Homo sapiens: one gene and its partner. The protein of the gene in region 2 interacts with the protein of the main gene of each other region in a pairwise test. Each region holds a gene or a part of one and is shown on either strand. Other genes may lie near its edges.

What was found. The genes of interacting proteins can lie anywhere in the genome.
Region 1: the proteins of TMEM114 (region 2) and EMP1 interact in binary tests that used the Homo sapiens proteins (3 or more experiments, as listed by UniProt).

What each region holds. Positions count from the first base shown.
Region 1 is NC_000012.12:13,210,226-13,213,725, reverse strand, and holds part of EMP1 (epithelial membrane protein 1), read right to left. Parts: intron 2,258-3,500; 5' UTR 2,216-2,257; coding exon 2,138-2,215; intron 248-2,137; coding exon 151-247; intron 46-150; coding exon 1-45.
Region 2 is NC_000016.10:8,584,012-8,587,511, forward strand, and holds part of TMEM114 (transmembrane protein 114), read right to left. Parts: intron 1-3,500.

The DNA.
Region 1 (3,500 bases), on a different chromosome or scaffold from region 2:
AGATGATAGAGAGAATCATGAAGGCCTGCACTGTCTTGAGGGCATCTGTAGACACAGGACGAGGAGAACAAGGGCATGAGGTCACTCCAGGGGCTGAACATTCCCTGACCACACCTATTGTCAGCACTGGGTCAATATCTTTATATATACCTTCACTGGCATATGACAGGCTGTCACTGCAGCTAATGTTGGTACAGTTTTTCCAAAGACCTACTGATGCATCTACCGTATTGGAAACCAACCAGACCTGAAACCAGAAGGAAAGAAAATGTTAATTGAAAGCTGGCCCTCTGATTTAAAAATAAAATAACAAATCAGCTTGCATCGGGATCAGATTTTAATAAAGACATTCTATTTAGCTATAACTATGGCTATGCAGCTTATCTGTGGGCGGAAATAAGGTCCGATTAAAACTGAAGTTCACAAAGTTGCCAAGAGAAGAGACACAGAAGAATGTGAAACCCAGAAAGAAATCACCTAGCCCTCTTTGGGCTCCACATTCTTCACGACTTAACAAAAATGGAAGTAACTCAACCACAGTGGTTTAAAATTCTAAGGTTCTGAGAAACAGAAGTCCAGGATGAGGAAACTGGCTTAGGTATGTGCAGTTCATATACTCTAACAAGATTGTTTCATTTAAGTCCCTGGTTAACCAGGAAAAAAGTGAAATGTCCAACTGGAAACAATTAAGAAACATAAGACCTACTGGGAAAATAACAATGAATCTAGTGGTTAATAAGCCACTTTCATCTAAACAGAAGGATCAAACTTGACTGTCACAACATGCAAAGTAATTTGATAGTAAAATACTACAGCAAGTGCTTTCCTGTAGGGGCTACTAAAAGCTGAAGGGTGACCTGAATGGATTCCCCCAGACTGATCATGGTGCCGCCATCCCTTCCTGCCTGGCCCAAGAAAAGGAATTATCCTTCTGGAAGAGAAAACAAGTGCAGTGTCCTGTCTACACACACACAAATGCACACACTGGAAAGGTGGGGCCGGGAACATGCATCACCTACGCCAATCCCTGCTCTTCATTCAATAAACAACTGTGTGCCTAGCCTTATATTAGGGGCTGGTAATTCACAGATACGCAGCGCTTTGGCGCTCATTAATACACTTTGAAGAAGCTTATCAGATTTATCTGGATAGATATAGGAGTTGACATATAGAATGGCTAAATTACAAAACAAGGAGGTCACGTGGGCGGGGGTTGTCTTATCACAGTTATTCTTAATTAGCCTTGCTTATGATCACACCCACTAATGTTTGCAAAGCTCTTCTATCTGAACTTTAAAACTCACTTATACTTTAACTGTGATAGGGACCTAAACAGATTCTGAAACCATGGTTTGCCTGCCTAGTGATTGGTGGCCTTGGTTTTTAGGTCCAAGGAGCTGGCTTTTTTCTGAGAAAAGCACAAGTAAAAGCAAATTGGGCGCTGTAAGCCACCACTAGAGGTCAGAGTAGCCCAGGGTTCAGAGAGAAAAGACACTACCTCCATTTTTTTTTTCTCGTTTTGTCTGAGTTAGTTAATTCAGTGGCACTGGGTTAATCTTGCAAAACTCCACTTTCACATGCTACTCTTTGCTCAAAATTTGAATTTGTCAGTCTGGCATCCTCTTCTTCCCATCTATCCTTCTAATCAAGCTTCTCAGAAGGAGGGGAAGTTCGGCTCCAGCCACATAGGTGTGTGTCCTCCTTATCCTCTGACCAAAGCTTGTCCTTCCTACATATGCTCCTTTGCTAGCACTCCCACCTGAATGCATCCCTATGATCCTTCCACCTTCCCTCTTTCACTAAGAGAAACCTCAGCCATCTACCACTCCTCCAGGTTCACCTCAAGCTCCACTCACCCCTGCTGCTGGGAAGGCTCTTCTAGAGACCGAAGAAGCTGCACTAGATCCTCCAGCCCTTAACCACCTACAGCTCTGGCAGGATTACTCCTGTGGACATTCACTTTTATCCTCCTGTTATTTAATTGTTTGAAGGGCAAGCGTGTGTTTATTTTGTTTTCCCACAACTGAGCTGTAAGTTCATGAAGGGCAAGGGCTGTGGCTTAAACTTCTTTTGTGCACTTGATGTAAATATTCGAATGATTTCTCAATGAATGAATGAACAAAAGAACATTACTCACATTGGCAATGGTGCTAACAAATAGCATAATAACAGTAGCGATGTGGACCACAAAGATACCAGCCAGCAATACCAACATGTTGGCTCTTTTTTTTTTGGTAACTTGTGAGCAAAGAGAGTTCTGAAAAGAAAAAGAAAGGGACAAAAACGGTTACTGTCAGATTCAATAAGACGACTCAGCTTTCCCACACGTGTGGGCTATCTGCTAACATGAGGAAGAGCTGCACTAAAAACCATCACAATCTAATCATAAATTCCTGAAAACACCCCTGTAACCTAGTTCTGATTTGCCTAAGTGCCTATTCATCCAGTTATACATACCTACATGGAAACAGAATTTGGTTTCTTCTTGGGTATTTACATATTCATTTCTCTAATACATTCTATTTCAAAAAAGGAACAAGAACATTTTATGATAACTGTTCGTATTTTATTTTGTTTGTGTTTTAGAGGTTAAAAATAGGACTTTGATTTTCAAAGAAGTAGGCCTTTATAATTTCCAGGTCTCTGAACAATGTCATATAAATGTCCATTTTCCACTAGGAAAATGTCCATGCTTTCATCAAATTGCTCACCCAGCACTTTTAATAGAAGTAAATGCCTTCTGAAGAATAGCAGCTATTACTCAATGCCCATATACTGAATAGGCTACTAATATGATCCTGGGCGAGATATAAAATGTGAGAGGCACAATTCTATTATTATAATGCTGTTTGGTTTTCAATAATTATAACAACCTAATTACAGTTTAATGGTCTGGTCACCCTGTGACTGAGCATTTCAGACTAGTATTACTACACCTGAGCCTTTGGGCTCTGTGTGCCTCATGGCAGGAAGCCTGCCATTGGTCTGGGCAGAGAGTCATATTTTCCACAGCTCAATGTGATGGTTCTGGGGGCTTTAAAAGTAATGCAACTTGAGATAGCACCAAATGTGCCTTCTCCTTGTACATGACATTTACACAAATTCCAATCCTTCAGGACTCAATACAGAAGACAGGCAAATGCATAAATCACAGGGTGGGAGGATTGGGAACTAATATCGATTAAGAATGTGCATGGATAAACAAAAGCTTTCAGCCATAATCACAGCAGAGAAGGGAGCCCATTGATCATAAAGCCTAGGAAATAAAGGAAGTGTGAAGGATACACATGGGGGAGGCTATTCTGATTTATGTCAGCTACAGAAGGAGAGCTTTGTCATGCCTAAGACTGTCACAAAGCAGTGCAGGCTCAGAGGGACATCAAAAGGAAAGGGCTTGAGGTTATTCACACCCTAGACAGAATGGATGTGTGGATGCCCCAACCAAGGGAGGAGATGGCCAGGCGCATCCTGCAATTGTTCCACTGCCCTCTCTCACTCCA
Region 2 (3,500 bases):
GTCACCCAATGTGGTCCAGTGGAAAACCTAGCTGCAAGTTTGGTGGAATTCATGAGAAACAGAACGTCTCCCTTTTTAGGGTTGCTAAGGTGGGAGAGGATTTAGCTGAAAGCAGAACCCAAACAGAAGAAAGCAAAGCCCAAAAAGAAGAGGAAAGAAATTGAGTTTAACAGTGGATTCCAGCAGACATGAGCTTTTCAGTTACATGAACCAGTGATTTCTTTTTTTATTGAAGCCAGTAAGATTTGAGTTTCTGTCACTTGCCACCAAAAAGTTCCTGGCTGATACAGCTAGACTGGATCATTCTAGACCATAGCTCTTTAATCTACACTGTGCTGAATTTGAAGACCTCCTTTCCACCAAAAATAATTCCAGTCCCTAGCCCAAGAAACAAACCCACGACTTCCCCAGAGCTAACCTGGAAGATGAAACACTTCAGCAAAGTGGATTTTGCTGACAAGGAACCTGTTTCATTGAAAACTTCTCTCTGTGGCTGAAAGAGTGGAGGTTATTGGGATGTACCTGTTTAAGGACCTGATATGTCTGCTCAACTCCACTCTCCCAAGGTAGCTAAGCAGAATTAAGGAGGTGTGTTAGTCTGTTTTCATGCTGCTAATAAAGACATACCTGGCTGGGCGTAATGGCCCACCCTGTAATCCCAGCACTTTGGGAGGCCGAGGCAGGCAGATCACCTGAGGTCAGGAGTTTGAGATCAGCCTGGCCAACGTGGTGAAACCCCATCTCTACTAAAAATACAAAAATTAGCCGGGTGTGATGGTGGGCATCTGTAATCCCAGCTACTTGGGAGACTGAGGCAGAAGAATTGCTTAAATCCAGGAGGCGGAGGTTGCAGTGAGCCGAGATCGCGCCATTGCACTCCAGCCTGGGCTACAAGAGTGAAACGCCGTCTCAAAAAAAAAAAAAAAAAAAAGAAGAAGAAGAAGAAAAGAAAAGAAAAAGAAAAAGACACACCTGAGACTGGGTAATTTATAAAGGAAAGAGGTTTAATGGACTCACAGTTCCACATGGCTGGGGAGGCCTCACAATCCTGGCTGAAGGTGAATGAGGAGCAAAGTCACGTCTTACATGGCGGCAGGCAGGAGGGTTTGTGCAGGGGAACCCCCTTTATAAAACCATCAGATCTCAGGAGACTTGTTCACTATCACAAGAACAGTATGGGAAAGACCTGCCCCAATGATTCAATTACCTCCCACCAGATCCCTCCCACAACACATGGGAATTAAGGAAGCTACAATTCAAGATGACATTTGGGTGGGGGCACAGCCAAATCACATCAGGAGGCAAGTTAGATCATGGGACTTCCCTAACAGTCCTCCATCTGCCAGGTGATTACAGTAAATTACTTGGCACTGAAGTGGTCTCTCTGTGAGGGTTTTCTTAGAGGAAAAATCAAGGTTTCTTCCCATACACCCCCACCAGGATTTATCTAGGAGGCTGAACTTAGAGAACATGCTGCTTGTCGAACGTGCTGCTTGTCAGCTAGCTTCTCCTCTATGGCCTCTGCAGCAGGTCCTTAAAGGAATGAAACATCTTCATATAATAGAAGAGCTTGGACCAAACTCAAAATTCATTTTGGAAGAAAAAGACATTATGCGGAGAAAAAAAAAAAAGCTCTTTCTGGGGGTGATTTGCAAGGAGTACATGGTATGAAGGGGCAGCTTGTCCTTTTTCATGGAGGATATAATGGGAATAATAGCAGCTACCACTTACAGCACACTTCCGGAGGCCAGACACCACATTAGGCTCTTTAAATACACTGTCCTGTTTTAGCCTCACAATAACCTTACAAAAAGAGATGACAATTATCCTCATTTTGCACAGGAGGGAACTGAGGCTCAGAGAGGTATAAGGAAATAAGGAAAGGCCCATGGCCACATGCCTACTTGGTGGTGAAACTGCGGGTTAGCCCTAGGACTGAGGGTGAACGAGTGAATAGACTGTGGATGTGAGTTCTGCTCTGTCTCAAAATCCTGAAACAAGCATGGTTGTTGCACTGTCAAGATTGAAGAGGAAGCCAGCCCAGTGCCTATTGTGGTTAGCCATCCAATTGACCCATGGATGTGATAAGTCAGCTGAATGTGCACACCCAGCTTGGCAAAGGATCAGCACTCCATTGATGTTACTACCTCTAGAAGGAGGCTGGAAGGAGGGGCAAAGGGAGAGCTCATGCTTACTGAGCACTTACCATATGTCTGGAAACTCGATGTCAAGTCATTCCTTTCTGACAAGTCTGGTCATTCCTTTATGACTGGTCCTAGGCAAGGTCCGTTTTGTTTATCCATTTTTATTCCCTCTCATGGAAGTCTAACCATATCCCTTGATGGTGTCCACATCTCATTTTGACGGATGTGAACATTGAGGCTCAGAGAGGTTAAGACACCTATCCCAGGATCACAGAAGGCCTCTGTTTTGTAGGGGTTTTACCTGGGACATGACCCTCATCTCCCTCACTTCCATGACCGGAATTCTTATCATTCTTTTTTTTTGTTTTTTTTTTGAGAGAGTCTCACTCTGTTGCCCAGACTGGAGTGCAGTGGTGCAATCTCAGCTCACTGCAACCTCTGCCTCCCAGGTTCAAGCGATTCTCATAACTCAGCCTCCTGAGTAGCTGGGACTACAGGCAGGTGGCACCACACCGGGCTAATTTTTGTATTTTTAGTAGAGATGGGGTTTCACCATGTTGGCCAGGCTGGTCTCAAACTCCTGACCTCAGGTGATCTGCCTGCCTCAGCCTCCCAAAGTGCTGGGATTACAGACATGAGCCACCACGCCTGGCCGAATTCTTATAATTCTTGAAACAGTGCTTCAAAGACACTCACAGTTTCCCCTTGTGCAGTTTGGGGCTCAGAACAGAGCACACGGTACCTCCACCTTTCCTCAACTCCCACACATTCCAGGTGTCTAGGGTATGTCTCCTTTGGTGGAACTTAACTCAGTGGTGTGCTGGAGCTGACTCATATCAACTCACAAGAGCCAGTTAAGCTTTTGAGAATTTTGTGAGCCAGGTAACATCATGTTGGTGTCTTGAAATTGGCCATGGTGGAAGTATTTGCACCACAGAAATAGGCAAATGCTACAAACCAGGGCTTTTTTTTTTCTTTTAATTTTGCAGAGATCCAGTTGTTCAATATTTCCCAGCATGCCTCTGGACTTTAGAGAAACAGTTCTGGTTCACCATAAACCCATATATTCATACAATAAATACATATATTGAGCTCCACCTACAATATAATATAATTTGCATTCACTAACATGTTTGTTCAGCAAACTTTGACTCATGGGCTACTATGTGCCAGGTTCTATGCTAAATATTGGGAATTCAGCAGTGGCAAGATAGACATGGTCCTTGTCCCCATGGAGCTTTCAATCTAATGAGGGAGTCAGATTTAAACCCCACCCCACAAAAAAGTCATACAATTTGCACTTAGCAGTTAGCCAAGTCAAGTTGGTGGGATAAAAGCAGGGAGATTCCAGGTGGA